2 linked regions of the Homo sapiens genome follow. The protein of the gene in region 2 purifies or fractionates together with the protein of the main gene of each other region. This does not show direct contact. Each region holds a gene or a part of one and is shown on either strand. Other genes may lie near its edges.

Region 1 (3,831 bases), on a different chromosome or scaffold from region 2:
TTCAGCTGGAGGTAGCTTAGGAATATTTAAGACCAGGTACAGTGGTTTGCACCTGTAATTCCTGTGCTTTGGGAGGCTGAGCTGAGAGGATTACTAGAGGCCAGGAGTTGGAGACCAGCCTGAGCAACATAGTGAGACCCTATCTCTACTAAAAATTAGCCAGGCATGGTGGTGTGCACCTGCAGTCCTGGCTAATCAGGAATCTGAGGTGGGTGGATCACTTGAGCCCAGGGAGTTGAAGCTGCAGTGAGCCACAATCATGCCACTGCACTCCAGCTTGGGCAAGATAGCAAGACCCCGTTTCTAAAGAAGAAAAAGGAAAGAAAAGAAAATTTCAGATCACCTTAAGCTGCATTTCAGGAGGCATATTAGGGATCTCTTCTCCACTTACAGTTATAGAACAAAGATCTTTAGATTTCTGGGCCTCTGTAAGAGAAGAAAAATCATGTGTGACACTTAACTCTCAGATTTCAATAACAAAGGTATAAGCTACTTTCATTCACTAACTTAAAACATGTCAGTTATTTGTATAAATTATTAAGTCCATTGTTTAACAGCTCAGGGTATACTTAAGCTATAAGCAAACAGAATGAAATATCAAAATTCTGCAACATGTAAATTAATGCTTCTTTAGATAAATAGCATTATTTTGGCATGTATAGGATTCATGAAACTGTTTTCTTCAGTATATAATCAGAATTATAGCCATTATACTAAAAACAAAATTTCCGGTAATGCCTATAAAAGCACCACCACAGATATACGGAAGAGATCACACGATTATTATAGAATTATTGACTTAAAAAAATTCTGGATCTAAGATTCTTTTCATAATTTGTATGGATTTACTTGAGAGTGAGATGGAGAGTGGACCCAGCAATACCAAAGGAATGGTACCCAAACGGAAATAGCTGTAATACAGATTCTTAATCAGACCTTGAGGCTTTACAATGTAATATTTGGTTTAAGTCTTCATTAACCCGATTTTAGGTAAATTAGCTTATAGATCTGCTAAGAATTTTAACTATAAATAAAATGGCTTAGCTGTTATGGTCTCTAAAGTACAAGATTTTTAAAAAGTTCTTAAATTTGAATATGACAGTTCCAAAATTAGACTACTTTTTAGACCTAATTGAAAACAAAATTGCACATTACCAACCTTGGCTATTTTTAATTTCTGCTTCATAATGTGCTTTTGACATATTAAGTCCTATATGAAGTGGCTTTAAGAAATTATTCTCAATATTTCCAAGTTCTGTCCATAATCCAGTCTGTTAAGAATGAAAGAATGAGTTATTTAGTTCAACAATGATTGATTGCCTACTATTAAACGCGATAAAAGCTCAAAAAACAAAAATAAATGAAACATGGCCCTTGCTTTTCACAATGGACTTCACTATTTAATAATTATTACTATAGCTAGTTATGTGAATACCAATTAAAAGAAAAATGTACTTGGGGCACTACGCTTATCACTGCACCATTTGGATAGCTCCAGGTTTTGAGATCTATTAACTTGTTAAGTTTTATTTATGAGAAAATTATTTGAGGATAAATTCACAGACGTCTCTTCCTCTATGAGCCATCTCCACAATGACTCTACCTTATTTATGCCTTCATCCCAAGTATGGCCTTTCAATTGATATCCACACCACGGATCTAGTTCTAGAGGATGCTTTCCCTTTCCTACTGATGGAAACTTTTCTAATACCCGGCTAATTTGAACCTCCCTGGTGACCAAAGTAGGTGAAGATTTTATCTGTTGAGGGCAGCTTATTTTGTCATGTATCTTAGAGTTTATTCCAAGAGCATTTTCTCTTACAGTACTAATGGAGAGGACTCATGAAGTCTTTATTTTAAAAAATAGAGAAAAGAAAATCCATTGGTACTTCCAGTTTCCAAGTACTCTTTACAAAGGAAAATGTCTTAGGTCAAAAAGGGAAACGTAGGGACCCAATTTATTCTTAACTAGAATAATGAACTACTTGATAACCTATTTTGTAATGAGCTTATTTTGACCCAAGTAGTACATGTTACTTGCAGCATTCCAAATAAAATCTACACATGTCTATGCTGAATAATTGATAATATTAATGTCTCACACCTATCCTTTTCATTTCAGTCATCTTGTCTTATTTATCCTATACTAATAGGAAAAGTAGAATACTAGAGAGGATCTAAAACCCTCAAAAATATGCATACCTTTTCACTTAGCATCTATCAACTTATCTTGGGGAAATAAAGATGTATGTTATGATTCTACTGCAGATGTTTTTTAAAAATGTTTAGTGAAACATTAGAATTAAAATAACTCAACAGGAGATTCATAGTAAATTATGACATATTAACATAATGGAAAAACTATACAGCCATTAAAATACTGTTTTTCAGTACATATTGGTGAATGGGAAAAAAGGTTATAAAACAGTGTGATTCTTTTAGTATGATCTCATTTTCTTTTTAAAAAAGAAAAAATGTACAGACGTATTAACCCAAAACCTAGAAGGGAATACAGTATATCAACAACGGTGTAATTTTGATTACTATTCTTTTTTTTTTTTTTTTGCTTCTTTATGTTGATTTTTAAATAATGGATGTTTTAGTTGTATAATTTTTAAATTGTTAAGTGGAAAGTTTTCTTAACCTCTAATGGCAAATTTGGGTTATATGCAGCAGGAATTTCCTTAACCAGTGTAGCCACACAGTATAACAAGCATATTACTCTTATGTGCACTGACTGCTCTCATTTCTCCTATTTTTACCTCTCTCTATCCAGCCTTTTTCTTTTACTGATACATGATATTTTACATATTTATGGGTACATGTATTTGTTACACGTATAAAATGTATAATAATGTCAGAGTATTTGGGGTATCCATCCTCTTGAGTATTCATCATTTCTATGGGTTGGTAACATTTCCTGTCCTCTCTCCTAGCTACATTGAAATATACAATATATTGTTGCTAATTATAGTCACTGTAATGTGCTATCAAGCAATACAGCTTGTCTTTTATCTAACTCTTTTTGTACCCATTCACCAGTTGCTCTACATTTCCTCCTCCCATGCTCACACTCTGGTATCAATCAATCATTCTATATTCTGTATCCACGAGATCAAGTTTGTTAGCTCACACATGTGAGAATATGTGATACTGTCTTTCTGGGCCTGGCATATTTCAATGTAATGACATGTAGGTCCATCCACGTTGCTGCAAATAACAGGCTTTTATTCCTTTTTACGTCCAGCCTTTTCTTCACCATTTATTCCCTGCCCCCCAACTTTTTTTTTTTCTTTTTACTTTGCATTCACCTCTGGGTTTATAGGCAGAACCCACTGCAACTGATGGCTTTCAAGACTAGGTTACTGATGACTCTCTGTTACCCACTAAAGCACATTTGAACATAAAGAGTATAGGGAAAACACCTAGCTTTGACAAAAGGAAACCTTTGACAAAAGGAAACATTTTATCATATTTACTTTTAAAAAATAAATACTAGATATGGCTGAAATCCCCTTTATTCAAGAGGTAGCCATTATCTAAAACTTGAATGTTTTGCATTCCTAATGTATCACTTAAACAATATAATTTTTCATGTTTAAAAGCACATAAATGGTATACTGTATATAACCTGCTTCAGCTTCCTTTTTCTTTGTCAATCTTATGTTTTTGAGAGTTATTTGTGTTGTAGCTCTAATTTTAATTGGTGCATAAGCATTCCATTATATGGAATTTATCCTAAGTTTTTAGTATTTCAAAATAATGCAGCATTTACATTGCTGTATGTTTTCCCATTCACACGGGGTAAAAGTTTTTCTAGGATACTGTTTT
Region 2 (3,286 bases):
TGGGGAAACCAAAAAATTTGTGTGACTTATTTTATTGCCATATTTGCTTTATCACAGTGGTCTGGAACTGAACCCACAATATCTCTGAGGTATACCTGTATTTATTTTTATAGTCATTTTCCACTTATGGTAAGTGATACTGGTTTTCCATTTTATGATAGTGAAAAAATATTCCTTTCTAAATAAATGTATTTAAGAGTCTATGTCAATAAAAACATTAATAGGGCAGATGGTAGGTAGATAAAGGCCAAAATCACAAAAACAGTGTAAGAATGACAGACATTTTGGAAATCCTGCTTTGACTGAAAGAATGGTGGACATTAGAGTTGGATTTGAGTCAGAAGCCTAGCTGTGTTGTGATTAGTCATGAGATCTTGGGCAAATCACTTTTGCTGTCTGTGAAAGGTAAGAAGTCTGCCGGTCACGGTGGCTCACACCTGTAATCCCAGCACTTTGGGAGGCCGAGGCGGGTGGATCACCTGAGTTCAGGAGTTCGAGACCAGGCTGGCCAACATGATGAAACCCCGTCTCTACTAAAAATACAAAAAAAAAAAAAGTAGCTGGGGTGGTGGCGGGCGCCTGTAATCCCAGCTACTTGGGAGACTGAGGCAGGAGAATTGCTTGAACCCGGGAGGCGGAGGTTGCAGTGGGCCAAGATCACACCACTGCCACTGCACTTCAGCCTGGGTGACTGAGCAAGACTCTGTCAAAAAAAAAAAAAAAAAAAAAGGTAAGAAGTGGTGGAGGAAGTACCCACTTCACTGGAAAAAAGGTAATGATGGGTGGGGAAGTTAAATAAATCGTGGTAGGAGGAGGTAAAGTGGCCTATACAGGCATAAGGTGTTATTACCATTATCCTGTGCTCACGAGATTAACAATCTTTCCTTTTTTCTAAACCAAAAAGATATTTAAAGTCATAACTGGATTCTAAACCCTTCAGGGCAATGCTGGCTGCTCATGGGTTCACTGGAAAAAGTCTAGCAGTTCTGGATGGGGACGGGGAAGATCAGTGGAAGAACTGCTTGCCATTTGGTCTCTCCTGTATAGAACTTAGAGCAGCCTGGGGTGTCTGTTTCAACCCTCATCCAGACCCCTATTCTATATTGAGTCAGATGCACACAAGGATCTTGGGGGTGGCCTGTTGTGATGTATTGTTGCATAAAACAGGTGTTTTGCTAAACTGGGTAGGAAAAGTTGTAACAGATGTTCTTCTCTTGGATCTTGACTCTGAGGTTCCTGGTCCATTTAGTGTAGTAGTTTTTCCTGGAGGATTTGGATTTTGGTAGGTGACATCCCATTGACCTGGAGAGGAAAGAGGAAATATAAATGGTCAGCAATCAAGTCAGTCATTTGCTGATCTCTGGCTTTTAGAATACTGGGTCAGATCCTGTGGGAGAAAAAGAATATAGTGATTTATCCTATTCTTGATGAGGGATCCACCCTAGACACATGTGAAGTTAACTTAAAGGAAGAAGCTTAATAGCTCTTGATTCCAGGTCTGTGTGATGTAAAAAACAAAGCACTTTGCACAATAAGTCAGGAAAGTGAGGTCCATTAGGAAGGGACAGGACAAAGAGCAACAAGGTGCCCTGAAGAGTGTGAACAGGGAATGATGGAAGGGAAGCGCCACGTTATAAAAGCAAACTGTGGAGATGAGATTGGATGTCGGAGATGAGATTGGATGGACAGATCTGGCAGCAGGAAATGCTTTCGGGGAGCCCTAGAAGCAGTGCTTCTGGAGAAAAGCCTGGAGCCAAGTGGTGGCAATGGTAATTAAGAAGGAGCAAGCACACAAGAGGCATTGTTAAAGAAGTAGCCAAGTATTTGCAGGGTTTGATGAAGGAAGTGAAAGAAAGGGTGGAGAGATCATGCTGAGCTCTTGAGCCTGAGCATTTGGGAGGAGGGAATGCCCAAGATGGCCCTGGGGAAGGCAGGAAAACAGGATCACCTTAGGAAGGGAAGATGAGCAGGCTGATATCAGCTATGTTGATTTTTAGGAACTGGCAGGACGAAGTCAAGTCAACTGTCTATCAGGAGGTTGGAGAGACATGACATTAGAGGTCAGGAGAAGGGTTGGGGCTGAGGAAAATATTCAAGAGACCCAGGGGTCCAAGAGGTAGGGATAGAAGGTGCAAAGGATAGAAAGCACATCTTTTTTTTCACCTACACACATGATCAAAGTCATCCGTTTTCCCTAAAAATAGAGTGAAATTCTGCATCTTAATGGAGATAGAAATGTACAAGAACACCTCACCCTGTCCCCTCCAAGCGTGCTTCCAAGCCCACCTGTCAGTGTGGCATAGCAGTGGGAAACTGTCTCCCCTTTCTAGCAAGCCCAGGTTTGTAAGCTCTAAAGAAATGGCACAGATTAGGAATAAATGTCTGGAGTTGATCAAATTATGGGACAGAAGTCAGCCTGGGAGTGCATTTTGGTCTTCCCATCACATGCCTCCCCACCCACCTCCCTTCTCCTCTTGCCCCATGGCTTCTGCTCCCCTAGCCCCTTACCTGTTCCTCTCCCTTACCTAAAATTCCCAGATACACTCTCTGGTAATGTCTTCACTGTCTGCCAACAGGGTGCCACTTTGGTCGGCTCGCATGTAGAAGCCATTGGGGGCCAGTACAGTGAGTAAGTTGCTCCCCTGAAGCTCGATACAGAAGTTGAGGGCAAACTTGCCCCAAGGGCGAAAGGTGCCAAAGGATGTTATTGACCAGAAGGATCCCCCCTGTGCTGGAGAAGGAAGAGCTCAGGTTGGTGGGCCATTCACAGGGGAGTCCTCCAGCGATCTGGCCTTGGAGGGACTCTGTGGAGGCATGCCACCCTCCCCTAGCTGCCCCATCCTGCCTGCATTGGCGGGTCCTTCTATGGAAATGCAGGAGCGCCAATAGGGATTCCACTGTTTTCTGTTCTGCCAACCCACCCTGGGGCTTTGAAGTGTGAAAACAACAGAGGTCCTGTTTTTCCTTTTTTTTTTTTTTGGAAACGGAGTCTCGGTGTGTCGCCCAGGCTGGAGTGCTGTGGCGTGATCTTGGCTCACTGCAAGCTCCGCCTCCTGGGTTCACGCCATTCTCCTGCCTCAGCCTCCCAAGTAGCTGAGACTACAGGCACCCGCCACCACGCCCGGCTAATTTTTTGTATTTTTAGTAGAGACGGGGTTTCACCGTGTTAGCCAGGATGGTCTCCATCTCCTGACCTCGTGATCTGCCCGCCTCAGCCTCCCAAAGTGCTGGGATTACAGGCATGAGCCACTGCGCCTGGCCTGTTTTTCCTTTTATAATGAGCAAG

What was found.
Region 1: the proteins of FSCN3 (region 2) and GLMN purify together in Homo sapiens (affinity purification with mass spectrometry; 2 studies listed by BioGRID and IntAct, with this or other methods). This does not show direct contact.

Annotation. Positions count from the first base shown.
Region 1 is NC_000001.11:92,246,719-92,250,549, forward strand, and holds part of GLMN (glomulin), read right to left. Parts: intron 1,272-3,831; coding exon 1,160-1,271; intron 427-1,159; coding exon 344-426; intron 1-343.
Region 2 is NC_000007.14:127,599,639-127,602,924, reverse strand, and holds the end of FSCN3 (fascin-3), read right to left. Parts: intron 2,732-3,286; coding exon 2,526-2,731; intron 1,303-2,525; 3' UTR 781-1,302; downstream 1-780. UniProt on the Homo sapiens protein: Acts as an actin bundling protein.